Linked DNA regions of Homo sapiens: all the other regions are reported to be linked to region 1. The links are microRNA targets in miRTarBase. Many come from high-throughput screens and were not tested one by one. Region 1 holds a microRNA gene; each other region holds the end of a gene's coding sequence.

Region 1 (3,382 bases):
AGCTGAGAAGTTGCAGGTGCTCAGTGGCAAAAGGCACTGGGGGTGGCCGGAAAATCTCCAGGGCCAAGTGGAGGGCAGCCGGACAGAAAGCTCCTAGGGAAGGGCATGGATTGGAGCTGGGTGCGGTGGGACGGGGCAGGCCCAGGGGATAGAGCCAGCGGGTCAGTGTGCCCTCCCCTGCCCAGGGGACACCAAGGCTGGCCCCCACCATGCCATCCTGTGGGCAGCAGATGGACCGAGCTTCCTCAAAGCCTGGCTCAGCTCAGGTGTCCTGATTTGGAAGCCGGGCTCAGCTCAATACTCCGAAGTTGGGAGGGATGCTGTACTGTCAGTTCCCCTCTGGGATGAGGGGCTCCATGGACCAGCAGCTGCAGAACGGGGTTTCCCCATGGTTCCCAGGACAGAAGCAGCACCAGAGGGGCCTGGCAGTGGGTTTGGCAAGGGGACGGATTCGAGGCAGCAGGTGGCACACGGGAGCCCTGCTGCCTGGCAGAGGCAGCACCACCTTCTCAGGGACAGTGAGGTCCCCGCACCTCAGAGGCTGGAAGGGCCTTGAGCCCCCGCTGTCCAGAGCCTGGTGTGTGGCCAGCAGATAGCAGCCAGCAACATGGTCTCCCGTGTTTGACAGAGTCCATGTTCCCTTCCCAGCCCCAGAGGGGCAAGGTGGGGTGACTGGGATCTGGGAGGGAGATGGGGGTCCCCCTGTAGCCCCTGAGACCCTGACCTCTCAGGGGTATCTGAACCCCAGAATTGGGAACTGGGCAGGCTCTGGTCACTCTGCCAACCCTATGTCCCCCTGGCGAAGCCAGGGTGGTGTCCAGTGGCTGGCTGCAGGACTGCAGGCTCTGGCCACCTCCTCGCCACACTGTGAGGTGTGGGGTCTGGGGTGAGAGGTCAGGGTGCTGAGGCCCAGCCTGGAATGCAGCAAGTCCAGGTGGGGCTGTGGAGCCCAGAGCAGGGGCAGGGGCCTGGCCGGCCCTCAGCCATGGCCACTCTCACCACACTGCTCTCCCGCAGACGGCGCCCCGCTCAGCGAGCTGTCCTGGCCATCCTCCCTCGCCGTGGTGGCTGTGTCTTTCTCCGGGCTCTTCGCCGTCATCGTCCTCATGCTGGCCTGCCTGTGCTGTAAGAAGGGCGGTATCGGGTTCAAGGTGAGGCCTGGGGGCCGCGGGAGCTGTCGTGGGATCCCGCAGGCAAGGCCTGTAGCGTCCACTTGACCCTGAGCTTCCCTCCTTCCTGGGGCCATCAAGGTGGCTGCTGGGTGGCCGTAGTTGCTGTGGGGCCACCTGGGGACCACGTGGACCCTGGCCCAGGGACTCCATAGCTCCTCCTCAGGGACCTGCCCCAGCTTCCTCGACTTTGAGGCCCTCTGTGGGGGGCGTGGTCTGACGCTCCCACTCCAGCCTGGGGTTGGGCCCGAGCACTCACGGAGGCTGAGGACAGCCTTGCAGGGGGCGTCGGGGGCTCTGGAGCTGGTGTGGGAGGGGGCTTGCCTCCCTAGAGGCCCGACTCCTGGTGGAGGAGCTGCCTCTGCAAGGGGCTCTCACGTCCCTCCGAATTCAATCTGCAAAGGGGAGTCCGGGCTGCCCAGACAAGCTTCCCGGCACAGGGACCTTCTTGCCAGTTGGAGTCACCTTGCGCGGGGTATCTTCTGCCTTCTGGAGGGGACGATGTGTGATGCTAGAGCCCAGCCTGCTGGTTAGGGAGCCCCGCCAAGGGTGAGGCCTGGCCTCACTAGGCTGCCCCTCTGGAGGCCAAGGCCCCTGGCCAAGGACAGGTGCCAAGCACTGCTCCTCCCCCTGCAAACCCCCAGCCCACCTCCAGCTGTAACTCTGAGCAGCAGGGAGGGCCAGGCAGAAGGAACCCCGGCCAGCATCGCCTCCCCCTCCCAGAGTCTCCATGGGTCCCATTCCTGCTGATGAGCAAATGACACCCTGGCCTGGACCTCTGGTGGTTCACACGCCCACGGGGGTCAGCCCCACCCCTGGGCCAGAGGTCAGATTCCTACGCCAGGAGAAGTCAGGGAGGGAGGAGGGTGGGAGGAGGCATTCTGCAGCGCGCACAGCACCCTGTCTGTATCTCAGGGTGCCTTCCTACTAAGTGACCCATGACTCAGCTGGCGCCACCCCCATTTGGGAGACAGTCCCAGAGTCCTCCCTGCCCCTGGTATGTCATGACGCAGAATGGGCCAAGGAGCTGGCTCTGCCCACCTGTCCCGCTGGCCTGGCAGGTGACGGTGCTGGATGTGGCCTTTTTGCCTTTTCTAAAGGCCACATTTTCCAGCCCATTCAACCTTCCAGAGCCCTCTGAAGTGGCCACAGGCCCCATCAACCAGTGAGGAGCTGCGTGCCTGGGGGGCAAAGCTGTGGCCCCAGGCTGTGGGGTCTGCACTCCTGCCCAGAGCCCCCACCCTGCTCTGGGATGTACCCCTGACCCGCTGGCACCAGGGGCCAGGCCAGGCCGCGCAGGCGCCTTCCTGGGGATCCCGAGGCCAGAGCCTCAAGGTCTTGGCGGGAGCAGGAGTGGAGGTGGGGCCTGGGTGGGACGAGTGGGGCTATTGTATAAGTGGCCCCTCCTTGGGGCACTGTAAGAACAAGGCCCCAAACAAGGGCTGGCCATAGCTCCTCCTCCTGCGCCCTCCTCACCTCCTTGGGAACATGGTGCCCGGAACATTCCAGCACCAGTGTGCCCCTGGGAAGTCCTGCCTCCACACTGGGCTCCCTCCTGGGATTTGGGGACCTGCGCTGGGCTCCCTGGTGGGGAGCTGTGCTGAGGGAAGGGGCTGGGCAGGCCCCCAATGCTGACCCTGTGCTACCTGATTGCACGCTGTATCGGCAGGACCCGGCTGGCCCCCGGGCAGCAGGTAATGCCTGGAGCCCGGGCCCGACCCCAGGGAGAGACAGCATCTGTGTCCTGGGCCCCTCTACAAAGCCCAGATGGGTGGGGCCAGGCCGGGGCTGGGATTGGAGGGCCCAAGAGGGGGCTTCTGGGGTGGTCTTCTGGGTCCCGGGGAGGGGAAGTTGCCCACGCAGCACCTGCGTCCCCCATCCCTGAGTGGCTGTGTGCTCCGAAAGGGCAGGCTGGGCCTGGCCTGCGGGAATACCGACAGAGCCACCTGCCCCTCTCTTTGCAGCCCAGGGAAGGGAGGCGTCCCCAGGGTCACACGTCGTACTTGAGGAGCCCAGGCCTCCCCTCCCACTGCACCTGCCTGTCCTCGGACTCACCAGCCCGGGTGCTGGCCAGCATCCAGCTGGAAGTCCCTTGACTCCTCTGAGCCTCAGCTTCCCCACCAGGGCACTGGGGGTTGTGAGGAAGGACAGAAAGGCTGTACCAAGTGCTCAGGGATTGGGGCTGTCATTGTGTGCCTGGAGCAATTGCTTTC
Region 2 (3,382 bases), not on the chromosome of region 1:
ATGCTGAGACCCGTTTTTGCAAGTCCTGAGGAATGGAAGAATATAGCTGCCAGGTATCCCAAGTCTAGGGCAGGGAGGGTAGTATCGGCATCACTTTCACTGCATTCTGTTGGTCAACGCAAGTCAGAGGCTCAGCCCAGATCCAAGGGCAGGGAAGAGGCTCCATCGTGTAGTTGGGCTCACTTGGAAGGTAATGGGAGGAGTTGGTGGCTGCTTTAAGACACATACCACATCTAGATTTCAACCTCCAGAAAAGTCCAAAGATGCACTCACAGGAGCCCGTTAGTCAACTGAAGCTGGTTCATGGCTCTCTTCTTCAGGTGGAGACTAACCAACTCCCTGACCTCCTTCGGTTAAGTGCTCCTTCCTTTTTCCTGCTGCCTGGAATGTCTATGTGCCATCTGGAGCTATGGCAGCCTTCTTGCAACCATGAGGCAAACTCTATGTGCAAGAGCAGGTAGCTAGAAAGAGCCTGCCAGCCCTGGGCTTATATCCTGCTTCCCAGGGAGCTTAAAGATAGCAAAACCCACAGCCATTTTCATCAAATGCCAGGAAATTCTTAGGCTGGGATTGTTGGGATTGTTTGAATGGTTGAGCGTGAAAGACTTGTTATAATGGGCTTGTTGAATACGGTGAAAGATGAGATGGCTTTTAGCTGCCTCCACTCCCCGTGTCCCATGCTCCATAGATGTTTCTTTTTTTTTTTTTTTTTAATCATTTTTTGGTTATGCCAGGTGTCTCCTGTGTGTCCCTCCAGATCCCTCTCCAGCCCTAGAAACCTGAGCTCTATAAATGTTGCCTCTCTCCACTCATCTTCTCTTTGGCTTCAGGTTGAGTTCAGCCAACAGATGCCCCTGTAGGATTTGGACACAGGGAGCCAGGGGAGAGGGGCATCAGCTGCCTGGTTAGCAGGGCTGTGATGATTCTTCTACCTATGACTCTCAGTGCTGTTGCCTCTTCCTCTGGATCTTGGAAGCTTCCATGCTGAGGTCTGAAGGTGGCTCCCTGCCTCCCACTGATGTCCTTAGAATCCCATCCTCACCTAATACCTGGTATTGAACACTGCCTTTCTTAGATGTCATTTAGGCTCTCGTTTCAATTCCCAGTATGCTTCCTGCAAAGACCTCGATAGATGGACTGAGGGGAATAGTGCAAGGTCCTCCCATCCCCAGTATTGGGATCTAGGGGCAGGGGGTCCCAGCTGTGCAGTAGGTTAGGACTACACTTCCATCATCAAAGCCACAGAGGGAAGAGGTGAGGATGAAACACACTAGAATTGACTTAGAAAACACACTGGCCAAATCTTAGCTATTTGAGGAATGTAGGGAGAAAAGCCACCTTCTCTCTCTATGTCTGAAGGTTCCCATGGCTGTCTCTTTGCCCAAGGGGCAAACTTTCCATCAGGGCATCTTCTGTGCCTCTGAGGATCATTTTCCAATTATAGGCAATGGTAGTACGTGTTTCAGTGCAGAATGAGATAGAGTTGTTTAATTTGACAATAAAGCGATGCGTCAAAAACCTCAGTCAACACAGTAAGTGTTTTCTTGTTTTCCTGCTGACCAACCTAATTCTGGTTTCATACAGGGCAGCCAGGTGCCCACCTAAAAGACTGCACTTCTCAACTTCCAGTTGTTTCTATGGATAATGGTTGGAAGCAGAAATTGGGTTGGGGCTTCCAGATAATCCCCCCTCACAGGGACTGCTTCAAGAGAAAGGGATGCCCTTTGGTTCTTTCTCCTTTCCACTGCCTGGAATGTGATGTCTGACACTGTGGCAGCCATACTGGCATAATGAGGCCAACTCTCTGCCATGCTAAGAGTGGCAGAGCTGGGAATTGAAAAGAGCCTGCTAGCCTTGGGTTGCTTCCCCTTGATCGGCTCATTACTTGGAAGAGAACACACCCTTCTCTTATTATTTTCTTTAAGGCATTTTTTTTTTTTTTTTTTTAAGGCAGGGTCTTACTCTGTCTCCCAGCCCGGAGTGCAGTAGTGCAATCTTAGCTCATTGCAGTTTTGACCTCCCAGGCTCAAATAATCCTCCCGCCTCAGCCTCCTAAGTAGCTGAGACTACAGCTGTGCGCCACGACATCTAGCTAATTATTTGTTTTTTGTAGAGATGAGGTCTCACTGTGTTGCTCAGGCTGGGTAGGTGTCTAACTCCTAGGCTCAAGTGATCCTCCCACCTTAGCCTCCCAAAGTGCTGGGATTACAGGTGTGAGTCACCGTGCCTGGCTTTGTTTAAGGCATTCTTTTTCCGCAGCATCTGTTACCAGCAGCCTGAAGCCATTTCTATAACAATATCAGGAAGACACATGGACAGAGACCCTAATGTATGAAAAATGCATCAATTATTTGAGATTAATGAGTCCTCATAAACAGAGACTGAGAGGCTCTAACTTTCCTCCGCTATGTGAGAGTAGGAACAGACACTCCTCCCTGTCCTTTTGTAAGGCTGTTATGTCATCTAGGTGATGAAATTGCAACAATGCTTTAAGACGGAGGGGTGAAAACATCGGGCATTGGCACAATGACGAACCCTGAGATTTAGAAGAGGAAGAGGAGGCATCAGTGGGTGCCTACTGGGACAGTCTTATTTCACAAATCAGGAAAGGGAAACCCTACATGGGCGCAGTGGCTCGTGCCTGTAATCCCAGCACTTTGGGAGGCTGAGGCAGGTGGATGACTTGAGGTCAGGAGTGCGAGACCAGCCTGGGCAACATGGTGAAACCCTGTCTCTACTAAAACTACAAAAATTAGCTAGGCATGGTGGCAGGTGCCTGGTGCCTGTAATCCTGGGTACTCAGGAGGCTGAGGCAGGAAAATCGCTTGAACCCGGGAGGCGGAGGTTGCAGTGAGCAGAGATCGTGCCATTGCATTCCAGCCTGAGGGACAGAGCGACACTCTGTCTCAAAAAAGAAAGAAAGAAAGAAAGAAAGTGGGGACCCACTCTCAGTCCAGGGCATGTTCCTTGCAAAAAGGGAAGCTGAAGATAGAACCAAGCTTGGAGAATTTTGTTTGCAACGCAGTCAGGCTCTCCTGGATCCTCTCTCACAGTCCTGGCATTCAGGGGGTGCCATCCCCATCCTCGTGGCATGAACAGAACGGGAAATGTCCGCAGCACGGCTGCAGCCACGGCTTCCACAGGATGTTGCTCATGGAAAACTGCTGGGGCACAGGACTCAGGGTCTGCCGATGCTCCGACACCGCGGCACCTACCCTTGCTATCACGGCGTGGTACAGGGGCTCGGAGTCGGGGGTCAGGGGCCGTGCCTCGGAGGGGTCCCTGGAGAGGTCAAAGAGCAAAGGGGGTCTGTGATGGGTCACGCCCTCCCCGGAGCATGGGCAGACGCCTCGGCCGTAGCAGGCCCCCGCTCCCTCGGGGT
Region 3 (3,382 bases), not on the chromosome of region 1:
AAAAAAAAAACCACCTTCTGAAAAGAAAAGGCAGACCGCAGCATTTTATTTCAACCTAGCGAGCATCGACGATCTGGCTGTGAGGAAAGGATGCATTTTCAAATTAGCTTTCACTATGGTTTTCTCTTCCCTTCTCAAGGGAGAAGATATTAAGAAGAAAATAAAGTGAACTCTTAGATGTTCATCAAAGTTAAATCCTGGCTGGGCACGGTGGCTCACATCTGTAATCCCAGCAATTTGGGAGACCAAGGCAGGTGGATCACTTGAGGAGTTACAGACCAGACTGGTCAACATGGCGAAGCCCCATCTCTACTAAAAATACAAAAATTAGCTGGGCGTGGTGGCGTGTGCCCGTAGTAGTCCCAGCTACTTGGGAGGCTGAGGCAGGAGAATCGCTTGAACCCGGGAGGTGGAGGTTGCAGTGAGCCAAGATTGCACCAGTGCACTCCAGCCTGGGCAAGAGTGAGACTCCATCTCAAAAAAAAAAAAAAAAAAAAAGTTAAATCCTGTGCAGACTGGCAGAACTAGAATAAGGGAATATATCCTTATTTCATGTTGTCCAGTGCTGAGCATTGATTTGTAATTTCATTTTACGCAGGCCCAGTGGCTCATGCCTGTTATCCCAGTACTTGGGGAGGCCAAGGTGGGAGGATCGCTTCAGCCCAGGAGTTTGAGACCAGCCTGGGTAACAGTGAGACTTCGTCTCTACAGAAAATAAAAAGACTAAAAATAATTAGCCAGGCATGGTGGCGCACGGTCCATCTACTTGGGAGGCTAGTCCCAGCTCCTTGGGAGCTGAGGCGGGAGGATCGCTTTTGACTTCAGGAGGTCAAGGGTGCAGTGAGCCATGATCGTGCCACTGTACTCCAGTGTGGGTGACAGAGCGAGACTTTTGTCTCAAAAAAATTTTTTTAAATGGTTTCATTTCAGTACAGCTCGGGGGCCATAGAAAGGTCAGGGGAACAGTCACCGATCTAAGGTTCAACTGGGTAAGAAAACATTGGCTGGCGTGGGGACACAAAGATGAGACCACACCCACAGTGCAGCCGGAAAGGAAACTCTGAGCCAAACGCCAGCCAAGAGGTTCAATGAGAAAACAGACGGCCCTTAACTTACAACCGGGCAATTCATCCAAACCGAGCACAGTCTTCCACAGTGGGAAAGGGCAAGTTTTCACAGAACAGATGGAAATGAAGCCACCCCAGCACCTCAGGTGAGGGAGCACGTGACCCAGCAATGCTGTGGGTCAGCGTGGGCTCACCCGGGAGCGCTCAGTATCAGGAAACATGAGGGCACCGATCACATTCTAAATCTCAGTGCTCATGGTATATAGATTTAAGTAACGAAATGGAGATTCATTATAAAAGTCAGTTTATTTTCCCTTTCTGTGTTTCGTATTTTCCCTTTTTGTCAGTAAATGAGCAATACACTGATTGGAAATCTGCATGATTAAATAACATTAACAAGTTCATAAACACACCCCATATCAGAGTATAAAGCAAGAGGTTGAAAAATATCCCCTAACCGAATGCAAATTAGGTATCCCTCAAAATTGCACATTCTCCTCCTAGTTTGCTTGCATAATTTAAAATATGTATATACAGAATGATCTTAAAATATTGATAACTAGTATGGAATTCACAGCCCTGAAGATATATATACTCTACATTTTTCTAAAGAACGGACACCCCTCAGGCCCTAGTAATCCATTCATGTGATTCAATGTCATGTACAGACAGTCCTCAGCTTCTGATTTTTGGACTTTACAATGGTGTGAAATGGTTGCAATTTCAACATAATGTACAATATTCAATAAATTACATGATATATTCAACACTCGATTATAAAATAGAGTTTGTGTTAGATGATTCTGCCCAACTGTGGGCAATTCTAAGTGTTCTGAGTACATTTAGGGTGGACGAGGCTAAGCTGTGGTGTCCAGTCAGGGGTATTAAATGCATTTGACTTCCAATGGGTTTACTGGGACATAACCCCATCATAAGTCAAAGAGCATCTGTACTTGACACTTACTAGAAGAAAAGGTCTTTCCCTTTTCTCTAATTCTAGTCTTCTGCTGAGGTAACTCCAGGAAGCTGCTTGTGCCAGAGATCAATCCTCTAAAAATAGACTAAGCAGATTAGCTTCCTAGAGGATCCTAAGTTCCCAGACAACAAATCTGGGATGGAGTGCTTCGGCTGTGAGTTACACGTCGGAATGTTCAAGATAAATGATGTACCTTATGGTCCTTTACACGTCAGAATGTTCAAGATAACTGATGTACCTTATGGTCCTTGAAAGGAAGACTCAATACTTCCAGGAGTCAAAGTTAATTTGAATGAAAATGGAAGAGAACAAGTTGACAATAATTTGAAGCAATTCATGCTTCTAGGGCTGAATGACGTTTAGATCAGACACAGAGTGACTGAGCCAATCAACAGGCATGTAGTGTGATCTTTCCCACCACAGTGAACAGAGGGATTCTTTGTCCAAGGCAGGCTTGCAGCTCGGTCCAGCTTGAGCATTTGATCAGGATTTGATGCTTCAAAGATGACCCACTCTCTGTAAACTCATTACCAAAGCAAAATGCAATGATCTCTTCCATTTGTGGAACATACCACCAACACAAACCACGCGTGGCTTTGCCTCCTGTTCACTCCATTTTCAAGGCTAGAGAAAGTTCAAGTCCAAAACAACAGTTAAGGTTAAAACGCTAAACCTCAATAGGCCAAACAAAGACGCGGGCAGAGTCAGAGGTCAAAGATGCTGGCAGAGTCAGAAGTCACTCGGCACATTCATGAAACAACAGCAAAAATCATCAACAGTAATTCCTGTAGTGTAGAAAACTAGTGCAGCCTTCACTGCTGGTCAGCATCTCAGGTGGCTGGCAGTGTTGAGAGACGCCTGACAATCCAAGATCAGGCTGGAGCTCCTAGACAAACCCAAATTAGGGCAGACTCGAAGCCCCAGCGGTCCTGATGTGGCTGACATTGTTCTTTCTGTCTCGCGGGCACCGGTCACTCCCTCAATATGTGAGCCTGTCTCCTTAGCACGAGAGAGAATATTTCCCTCACTATTAATGGCGAGATAAACACAATTGTACAACTTGTCTGTAAAGAGAAAATAGTATTAAATATGCAGCAACAGTTTACTTCTGTTAGAGTGTCATGTTTTGAACATAATAATGGATTTGGACAATTACATTCATTTTGACTTCATACAAAGATAATGTTTAATCTTCAATGAATTAGAAAATGATTTTGAAAATTATGGCTAATATTACAAAACACTCAACATCACATTTCAGTTCCCAAAAAAAGAACAATACATACAAATAATTTGCCATAGGCGGAGCAGAGAACTGAGACCAGAGGCTCAGATGAAC
Region 4 (3,000 bases), not on the chromosome of region 1:
ACCTGTTCACTGTCTTTAATTCTTTTTTTTTTTTAAGGAGTAACACCTGTATTCTTACCCATTTCAGATGTGATGCACATGTCCTAAATCTAACCTCTTCTGTCTAACTTCTTCCTATAAACCTTTGGTAGAAGTTGATTGGGGTGCTAAAAGATTATATCATCATCTACCTCATTCCTCTGTAGGCATCGAATCCCCAAGGAACAGTGGTGGCTGAAACTGAGGCCCATCCTCAAAATCCTAGCCAAGTACGAGATTGACTTGGACACTTCAGACCATGCCCACCTGGAGCACATCACCCGGAAGCGGTCCGGGGAAGCTGCCGTCTAAACCTCTCTGGAGTGAGGGGAATAGATTACCTGATCATGGTCAGCTCACACCCTAATAAGTCCACATCTTCTCAGTGTTTTAGCTGTTTTTTTCATTAGGTTTCCTTTTATTCTGTACCTTGCAGCCATGACCAGTTCTGGCCAGGAGCTGGAGGAGCAGGCAGTGGGTGGGAGCTCCTTTTAGGTAGAATTTAACATGACTTCTGCCCCAGCTTTATCTGTCACACAAGGCTGGGCACCTCTAGTGCTACTGCTAGATATCACTTACTCAGTTAGAATTTTCCTAAAAATAAGCTTTATTTATTTCTTTGTGATAACAAAGAGTCTTGGTTCCTCTACTACTTTTACTACAGTGACAAATTGTAACTACACTAATAAATGCCAACTGGTCACTGTGCTTTTGCTTCTCCTGTTATCATCTTCCTAAGTGGAATGTAATACTGTCAGCCCCATGTATCAGACACTTGTCTGATGAAGCAGTAAAGACGTTAAGGGTATCACAGGGGGTGGAGGAAGGGATTATCTCTAGTACACTACTTGCTGGCTGTCTGAAAAATTGTCACTGCCAAACTCTAAAAACAGTTCTAAATAGTGACTGAGAAGGTTTGTTGCTGGAGTCAGGGAATAAGGCAGCCAAATACTCTTTGCACAGTTCTTTAGTGGGAAGAGAAATTAACAATAAATATCAAGCACTGTGGTAGGCATTTCATCATTGAATCCTCATAGTAGCTTTTGGAGGGCAATGGTGACAGCCTGACTTCAGAAAGGAGGACACTGGAGCTCAAGGTGATTGATTACATAATGTCTCCTTCAATATTATTCAAGTAGAACTCAAACTCAGTTCTGACTTCAAACCTCATCCTCATTCCCCATTCCTGCTTCCTTATCATGCCATATCAAATCCCCAGAGCCATAAGGCCTATGAAAACAAAGTGAAAGGGAAGGTTCAGGCATTCATTCAGAACATTTTAAATGCTAATTGCCATTGATTTATAGGTTCTCTGTCTCTTTCCTGTCTTTAATCTTAGAGCTGTTTCCTCAAGAAAATGAAGAGGGAAGGATGGCTCAGGGAAAGTTAATCAGAGGGAAAATGTCACTCTGTAAAGAGTAAAAAATTTAGGATGATGATACGATCTGGGAAAAAAAGGCATAGTGAAGACCACTTAAAAACAAACAAAAAAAACCTATGAAGGTGCATGCTATTTCCCCAGAGCTAAAAAGATAAGTGAAATTGTGTTTGAACTCTTAAGTGGAGGTGAAGCAGAATTTATTAGCCACCAACCACATAAGTGATTATGAAGTAACTGAGAAACAGGTAACATTTTTTCCCACATGGACAAAACTTTCTCTTTCTAGAATATTAAGTATCTATGATGAGAAATGAAGTAGCATCTCAAGCAGTTTATAAATCTACCAGAATATTAGAATCACCTGGGACCTTTGAACGTACTCATGCCCAGGTCTACTTTATTCATTTATTTTTTTGTAGAGATGGGGACTTCAACTCCTGGTCTCAAATGATCCTCCCACCTCGGCCTCCTAAAGTGTGAGGATTACAGGCGTGAGCCACTGTGGCCAGCCCTACTAGGTCTGCTTTGGACCAATTAAATCAATCTCTGGGGGTGGAGCCTGGGCTTTAGTATTTTTAAAAATTTTCCTAGGTGGTTCTAATTAATAACTAGGATTGAGAACCACTGACTAACACAGTGGAATCTCATTCCTGGCTATATTTGAAGCACTGAAGCCCCCAGTCCTACCCCAGAAAATTCCAAAGAATTGGTATGAGGTGAAATCTTGGCACCAGTGTTTTTAAAAAGCTTCCTTAGTGATTTTATGTGCAGCTGGAGTTGAGAACATAAAAGCAGTAATTCCAAATTTGGGGTGGGAGAAGGTATAAAGGAAGGGGAAGCTCTTCAGATACTCTGCCCAAGCCCTCCTGTTCACTCCAGCAATGCCCAGAATCACTGCTGCTAATGGGAGAAAGGTTGGGATGGAAAGTTACATAGAACAGCCAGGCAGTAAACGAAGAACTTTTTCTAAGGGGGGTTGGAGAAAAGTAGGAAAAGTAGAAATTGCCAAACTTGCTTTTAGAACTATTTATTCTTTTTTTTTAAGTGATGTTTTTTAAACACCAGCATCAATAGGACAGAAGAAGACATCTGTTTTCCAATTAGCTGTGTCAGTAGATTCCATTCATTGTTTGTAGTTCCCAATCAGCTTTAAAAAAAAAAGTTTTTCAAATTTGCATACAAGTCATCTAAAATCAATAACAACTTGATCTAATTTAGAAAAATGAAAGAGTATCGTTCACTAAAGCAGATCTCTTTTGGGTAGATGGACCATCACAAAAGGAGCTCTTACATGCTTTTCCCACTCCCATCCCAAGTCCACCCTCCCACCAATTGTATTGTATAAATCAATAAAAAGCAAAGGTTCCAGAACAACTGAAAGAAAAATAATTCCAAACTAAGCAGAGTGAACTTTCCATTGGGAATGAAGACCCATGGGAAAAGGCAGCCCAGCCCATAACTCCTCCCTGCTGGAACACACACCGTAGGTGTAGGAACTGCCTGGGAATCCCATTAGAACACACTGTTTCTCAGGAAGAGAAAAAGCTGCATTACAAGAAAAGTTCTCAGGACTTTAGGAGTTCTTAGGACTGTTATTTCAG
Region 5 (3,382 bases), not on the chromosome of region 1:
AAAGGGCTTTAGGTGCACATCAAGCCTTCACAAACATCAGCGAGTCCACACGGGAAAAAAGCCCTATACGTGTGATCAGTGTGGCAAGGGATTCAGTTATGGCTCTAATCTTCGCACCCACCAGAGGTTGCACACAGGAGAGAAACCCTACACTTGTTGTGAATGTGGGAAGGGTTTCAGATATGGCTCAGGTCTCCTTAGTCATAAGAGAGTGCACACTGGCGAGAAGCCATACAGATGCCACGTGTGTGGGAAGGGCTATAGTCAGAGCTCACATCTTCAAGGTCATCAGAGGGTCCACACTGGTGAGAAACCCTATAAATGTGAGGAGTGTGGGAAGGGCTTTGGCCGCAACTCCTGTCTTCATGTTCATCAGAGAGTCCACACTGGAGAGAAGCCCTATACGTGTGGTGTGTGTGGGAAAGGCTTCAGTTATACCTCAGGTCTGCGGAACCACCAAAGAGTGCATTTAGGCGAGAACCCTTATAAGTAGATGTACATAGAGGATTCCATCTGGGACTCAGAGCTTTCTATCCATCTGAGAGCCAACACAGGAGAAAAACCATAGGAAAGTGACATGTAGGAGGGCTATAGGAGAAACTGATGATTTTACATTTTCTAGTCTGCATAGGAAGGGAACACCTGGATGTGTGATAAATAGGTTAGCACTTCAGTTACAAACTTCAGTCTTTAAGAGTCTGTTGTGCAGCGGAGTAGGCTTTAAAGAAACAGTGCAGCAGTGGTTTCAGTAATAATCCTCACTTCCATCAGAATCTGCCTGGGAGGGAGCTTTTACAATGTACAAGTGGTGAGAATGTTTCCAAGGTGCTAATTATGGACATAGATTCTTTGTGTGGGTTGATAGCTACCAATGGGACAGTGTAGAAACAAGTTTCCACCTTTCTAAAACCAGTTTGGTACATATCTTTTTAAAGATCGCTTTATAAAAACAAAAAGATAACATTAACATTTATTGAAACAAGTCACTCTGAGAAGACCAGGAACAAAGTTCTCTTGGCAGATCTGGGTGATGTGTGTGTCTCACATTTTTATCATGTTTTTATGACTGTTTTATCTTGCAGGTAAGCTTTACAGCTTTCAGAGGAGTTGTAGTACACTACAGAAATATGTCTTCTTTCCAGGTTCAAAAAGCAAAATCTGATTGGCATTGCATTGAATTATTAATTAAATAAATTTATTAATTGGCATTGCATTGAATTTATAGGTTAATTTTGAAAGAATGTGGCGTCTTTGAAATGCTGATTTTTTTTCACTTTAAAAAAATGACTTTTTTTTTACCACTGATAGTATTTCATATGGTCCCTCAGTAATATTTCTTAGAGATGGTTAAAAATAGGTTCTGAGTCATCTTAAGCATATTTCTAGGAATTTGTTTTATTGCTGTCATGAATATAATGGTTTTGCTCCAGTTCATTTCATAGTTTAACATATCAAATATTAGGTATCTTAAAAATCACAAATGCTATTTCACCCTGCAGGTTAGCAGTATTAAAATAGAATCATCAAATCCCCCATCAGTGGGGGCGGGGGGGGGGGTTGTAGAAACAGTCTGATATGGTTTGGCTCTTGTCCCCACCCAAATCTCATCTCAATTTTAATCCCCACGTGTCAGAGGAGGGCCTTGGTGGGAGATGATTGGATCACGAGGGCAGATTTCTCCCTTGCTGTTCTCATGATAGTGAGTTCTCATGAGAGCTGATGGTTTTAAGGTGTAGCCCTTCCTCGCTGTCTCTCTCCTGTCCCCTTGTGAAGAAGGTCCTTATTTCTCTTTTGCGTTCTGCCATGACTAAGTTTTCGGAGGCCTCCCCAGCCATGTGGAACTGTGTGTGAGTTAAACCTCTTTCCTTTGCAAATTACCTAGTCTCAGGTAGTTCTTTATAGCAGTGCAAAAATGGACGTAATAAGTCTTATGTACTTATTGGTGAGAGAGAAAATCCGTGCATTGTTTTCAAAAGAATTCATTAACGTATCAATTCAATTTCTATAACCTTTGAAGTGGCAGTAAATATGTAGTAATTGATACTTGGGAGATAGTTGCCCACTTGGGCAAAAACGCATGCAGAAGGTGGAGTTTTTAAATTTAAAACATTTTTAAAATAGCAAATGTTAATATTCCAGTTTCCATTGGTAGGAAATTTTTTAGATAAGTTCAGGCATATGTATGCAATGGAAAGCCACTAGAAATCTTCAGGCACACAGATAATGACAATGCAGGTTGCTCATGAAGTATTTAGTGAACCAGGAGAGTTTTAGAACAACAATTATAGCATGACCCCATTTTGTTAGTATGTTTTTCTGTGTGTATGTTTAGAGCAACAGAGAAAAAAAGATGTGGGAGAGGACATATAACTACTTATCTCTAGTGGTGGGATTCTGAATGTATAATACATATGTTGTACTTTTATGTATTTTACTTTGTAACAAAGTATCTTTCAGTTTTATAATAACAGTAGAGCTATTTTTTATAAATTAGCCTGATGGAACAATCCCTTATGATTAAAGATTCATGTTGTAACCTCTATAACTTTTTTGGCTTTTTCTCCTGTTCACCCAACTCCCTGTACCAAAGATAAGGCATACAAATGAGTGATGTAAATATTCTCAGAGGCTACATCATTTTTGCTGGCTGGTAGGAGATGAGGCAGTCTAGATAATTAGGAGCCACGGTGTTTCCATTTTTCAGTCCTGCCTTCTTGAACTAGTGAGCCCACAAGCCTGGTTTTGTAGAGGGCAGCACACCATCATGTGTTCCTCCAGGATAAGCTCTCTGTCTTGGTGACTCAGGAGACCTGGGTCTGCTCTGGTCTGAGCCTTCTGCTGCCTGGAGCTGCCAAAGAGAGAAGACATGTCAAGAGGTGGGGAACAGGCACTTTATATATAGATAACCAAAGTATTTACCGTGGGAAATAAGGTTTCAGAAGGGGGCAAGGGGTAGGGATGAAAAGTAATTTATGGAACTGCAGCAGAGTCACTTGGGATGTAGGGTTTTATGGCCAACAGAACAAATGCAGACACCCCTCAGACCTCAAAGTTTGTGGCTGAAAAGTTTAACTCATTCTGTATTCCCAGAGGTTGTCAGCAGACTCCTCAAATTCTGGGCAGTATCTCCCCCAGTGTTGTGGAGGCAGCTGTCAAATGTTGGCAGGGGCTGCAGTCATCTGAATGCTGGACTGGGGCCTACAAGGTCTGCTCCCAAGATCACTTCAGGCAGGAGCCTTCAGTTCCTTGCTGGCTGTTAATAGAGGTCTCAGTTTCTCACCTTGTGGGCCTCCCAGGGCTAAAGGCCTTCATCTTGTAGCAACTGACATCCCCCCGAGTAAGTAATCAGAAAGGAGAGAGCAAGCCAGAAGCCAGGGTGCCT
Region 6 (3,382 bases), not on the chromosome of region 1:
AGATTACTTGAATTACATAACTAATTTATTACTTAATCCAAATTTCTTAATGTTGAGATTAGTATAAAAAATTAAGTGGCTAGAGCAGTTGCATTAAGTACTCTAGAAGCAAGTTAATGCACTATAAAGTAAAAATATGTTTGAGATACTTCCAAAGCTGAATTAAGTTATCACTTTGATTTTTTAAAGTATATGCTAATATTGAGAACTGCTTCTATTGTCTATAAAAGTATATTCCCAAGAAAGTGGAAATTAGGAGATTCTACCCTGTTAATGAAAGAAAGATCAGTGAAATTTTTTAATGTTAGGGTAAAACAGAGCCTGCTATACAAAATGTTATTTCCTATTCATAGCAGCAAATAAGACATTTAAATGATAAAAGTATATTTTGAGTACTATATTATCATCACATAAGAACTTTTTCCCTCCAAAGAACAGAACACATCAAACATTTTTGAGGCATTGCCCTGAGATGCTAATTAGCACAAAAAAAGGGGATGGGGGTGAAGAATTTAAGTGGTACAAGAATGAAGTGCACAATAGAGGTGCAAAAGTGCCTTTAAAAAGTATGGTTGGTTTCCCCCCACTATTACCTCCAGGAATCAGGAACACACACAGTCTGCTGTTATAATGTATACTTCCTTCCTGTATTTTTATAGTAAAAAAATTATTAGTATGGCAGTGCTGACTCATGTGGAAAAGATTTAGTCTTCTCACATCACTCAAATACGGTTCTCTCTCGTGTCCAAGCCTAATTTCAATACTAATAATTTTGACAGGAATATTTTAATTTTCTCTTGTTTAAAGACTCAAAAAAAAAAGGCTCTAAATATGCTGTTATGGTTTGAAATACAGCTTTCCATCACATACTCTACTTGTGACTTAAGTTTTGCATCTCAAAAGATTACACAGTCCAGTTCAAAGTTTTGCAATTTCTGGAACTAAAGTTGTCAGTCTACTTAAAATATTAAGGAACTGGTTTGTTATAATAGGGATTTAGCTTTCAGTACCAGTATGTCTGGTAATTAGTCTATACTAGAAGCACTGGTATTCATTAAATGCACATTTAGATGCTTGCAAAGCCATAACTTAGAACATTATCATACTTCGCACTCTACCACAGATTTAGACATTAAGTATTTATTGTAAGTATGGAATTGGTTCTGTAATTTCAACTGATATGAATTTCTAAATATAAATAGTACTTCAGTTTTTCCTCATTCATGCTGGAATAAGATATAAATTAAATACAATTAAGTTACATTTAATCACCTCACAAAATAAGAGGGATAATGAAAAGATTTTGCTGGTATTTAACTACTTAAATCTGAGACATTTCACATTACTTTCCCCACTACTCCCCTAACTTTACATTAATTTTAAGGCTATATATACAAATATGTATATTTCCAAGTTAGGGAAAAAACAAATATAACAAAATGGACTATACTGGTTTTTATACACAAAATTTTGATTTTGTATTCAATGTTGTATTTTAGTCTTACATTTCAACAGTTTTCTAGTGGGAATCTGCCTACTGAATGATTACATGGTGATAAATACAATATTCAACCTAAAGAGACAAAAATACAGAAGGGCACGGAACAGTAATCTTTTCAATGCGACAGATTTTAAAACTTACTTTCACATGCTTAATCAGAGGAATTTAAGCCTAAATTAAATTAGGTTATTTTTATATCTACAATTCCTTAAGCTTTGAAAGTTATTTGTAAAGGCCAACAGCTAAATATTATCAACATGCTATATTTCAAATCACAAATACATCTTAACCACTTGGATTCTAAAGACATGGGCCAATTAAAAATCACAGGCAAACACACACTCACAAACACACACACACACACCCCTACCATAGAGTGTTAGATTGTCAAACTTTGACAATAAATATTTTAATTAAACAGTAGGCAAATCCAAGCTGATACACATCTTAATGAAAAATAAGCAGCCTGAAAGAAACCTATTTAAAAAATAGATTAAGGTACAACCAAGAATTAAATCTTTTAGTCTTTCTAATGGAAGGAAAGTTTCATCTATGCCTTGAGTGACAGTGTTGTCCAATTAAAAGAGACTAACATCTTTCCCTATGAGAAACGTCTCATTACAACGGCACAGTGTTTTAAAAGGCCAGGGTAAAAGAGGAATTACACATACATGATTAAGTTTCTTGTTTGTTAAATCAAGCTTTATTGATAAAATGGAATTCAGAATATCTTACTAGGAACAGCAGCAGGCCCAGCCAATCATGATAGCAAAAATGTGGCAGTTTCCTACTATATGTAGGAAGCTGCTGCTTATCAATTAGTAATTAAATGTAAGGACTTGAAAAGAGGTGCAAAGAAACAAGGCATTTAGCCCCAAGATTGAGATTCTTATGAATACACTGTATTATTACCTGCAATACTCATGGAAACAACGAAGGAACATCCTGAAAGACAGTTAAATGAAGGGACTGGCTTTATCAACAATGCCAACTCCCCTACCAAGAACATTTAAGATAGTTTTCAATAACTCCTTGGATGTTCAGCTTTGTAAGATTTTGAGGTTATTTTCCATAATCATCTGCACATTTGAGCGTGTAGCTGACATGGCTGCTGCTCTCCCTGTTCCAACCCCAAGTCCAAACACAACATGACTTGAAAGGGCTATATATCTGTTGCATCACACAATAAGCCAAACATTTCTTGTAACTTTGATAGTGATTTAAAGCAGTTCATAATTAAATATGAGCATTTTGTACAAGGACAATTACACTTTACAAAAAAACAAAATCATACAACAAAAATTGCTGGAGTCTGATTTACAACACGAATTATGGTTTGAAATCACGCTTACATAAGTCTCAAATTTACAAAAAAAAAAAAAAAAATCAGTTCTGGGCTAGCTGTTGTACTGCTGAAGTTCTCTGATGTAATCATTCTCACCCATGTCATATCCCCTTCCTTAAAGTTGAGGATGGATGTTAAAAGTTTCAACAAAGTTGAGCTGTACTCTCCTTTGGAGGTGAAGGTAAACTCCATGGCTAGATGAGCAGTTTTACCACATATCATCTGTTGATGTAGAGTCCTTTGTAAAAGGAAGCAAAATAAGGAACAACGTTAAAATTTAGCGGTGCCAAAATACACCATACTTTCTGGATAATGGAGAAAGATAATGTTCTGTAAAGATGACTTTTAGAATATAAATGTTTTTTAAAGTATATAAGTATATATGTGTACATATGAAATAGCAATGTTTAATCTGTTCAAAGAATTGTTAATCCTTTGTTTTGTTTTGGAAAATATTTGAAATGCGGTTTTATGATGAGGCTGTCCAAATGTATTACTCAATCAATAAATCTACTAAAAAGAATTTTTTAATGAAA

What was found. The annotated mature microRNA hsa-miR-1250-3p reads ACAUUUUCCAGCCCAUUCA and lies in region 1 at 2,273-2,291, shown strand. An mRNA with a match to its seed (bases 2 to 7 or 8) in the 3' UTR can be bound and repressed. Matches are read on the target gene's strand: a 7mer-m8 pairs with bases 2 to 8, a 7mer-A1 pairs with bases 2 to 7 and ends in A, and an 8mer does both.
Region 2: miRTarBase lists ARSD as a target of hsa-miR-1250-3p. Seed matches in the 3' UTR shown: 8mer at 1,428-1,435, 7mer-A1 at 715-721 and 7mer-m8 at 534-540.
Region 3: miRTarBase lists SLC37A3 as a target of hsa-miR-1250-3p. Seed matches in the 3' UTR shown: 7mer-m8 at 2,657-2,663.
Region 4: miRTarBase lists PFKM as a target of hsa-miR-1250-3p. The part of its 3' UTR that is shown has no 7-base or 8-base seed match.
Region 5: miRTarBase lists ZNF229 as a target of hsa-miR-1250-3p. Seed matches in the 3' UTR shown: 7mer-A1 at 1,281-1,287.
Region 6: miRTarBase lists PPM1A as a target of hsa-miR-1250-3p. The part of its 3' UTR that is shown has no 7-base or 8-base seed match.

Annotation. Positions count from the first base shown.
Region 1 is chr17:81,132,137-81,135,518 of GRCh38, reverse strand. MIR1250 (microRNA 1250) reads left to right here and starts at 2,211; the gene lies at 2,211-2,323. AATK (apoptosis associated tyrosine kinase) reads left to right here. Exons shown (of 14, transcript NM_001080395.3): 2 at 1,018-1,151. LOC124904079 (a long non-coding RNA gene) reads right to left here. Exons shown (of 4, transcript XR_007065937.1): 2 at 1-1,123.
Region 2 is chrX:2,904,209-2,907,590 of GRCh38, forward strand. ARSD (arylsulfatase D) reads right to left here. Exons shown (of 10, transcript NM_001669.4): 10 at 1-3,382. The coding sequence ends at 3,063. It overlaps ARSD-AS1 (ARSD antisense RNA 1), which reads left to right and starts at 696. Exons shown (of 2, transcript NR_144459.1): 1 at 696-997; 2 at 1,360-1,914.
Region 3 is chr7:140,332,398-140,335,779 of GRCh38, forward strand. It overlaps SLC37A3 (solute carrier family 37 member 3), which reads right to left. Exons shown (of 15, transcript NM_207113.3): 15 at 1,355-3,107. The coding sequence ends at 3,015. Among named protein-coding and RNA genes, the nearest start is that of SLC37A3, 64 kb to the right of the region's middle.
Region 4 is chr12:48,145,379-48,148,378 of GRCh38, forward strand. PFKM (phosphofructokinase, muscle) reads left to right here. Exons shown (of 23, transcript NM_000289.6): 23 at 186-1,026. The coding sequence ends at 330. It overlaps ASB8 (ankyrin repeat and SOCS box containing 8), which reads right to left. Exons shown (of 4, transcript NM_024095.5): 4 at 2,411-3,000. Among named protein-coding and RNA genes, the nearest start is that of ASB8, 11 kb to the right of the region's middle.
Region 5 is chr19:44,425,414-44,428,795 of GRCh38, reverse strand. ZNF229 (zinc finger protein 229) reads left to right here. Exons shown (of 6, transcript NM_014518.4): 6 at 1-2,542. The coding sequence ends at 493. Among named protein-coding and RNA genes, the nearest start is that of ZNF229, 21 kb to the left of the region's middle.
Region 6 is chr14:60,292,155-60,295,536 of GRCh38, reverse strand. It overlaps PPM1A (protein phosphatase, Mg2+/Mn2+ dependent 1A), which reads right to left. Exons shown (of 6, transcript NM_021003.5): 6 at 1-3,084. The coding sequence ends at 3,055. Among named protein-coding and RNA genes, the nearest start is that of LINC02322, 29 kb to the left of the region's middle.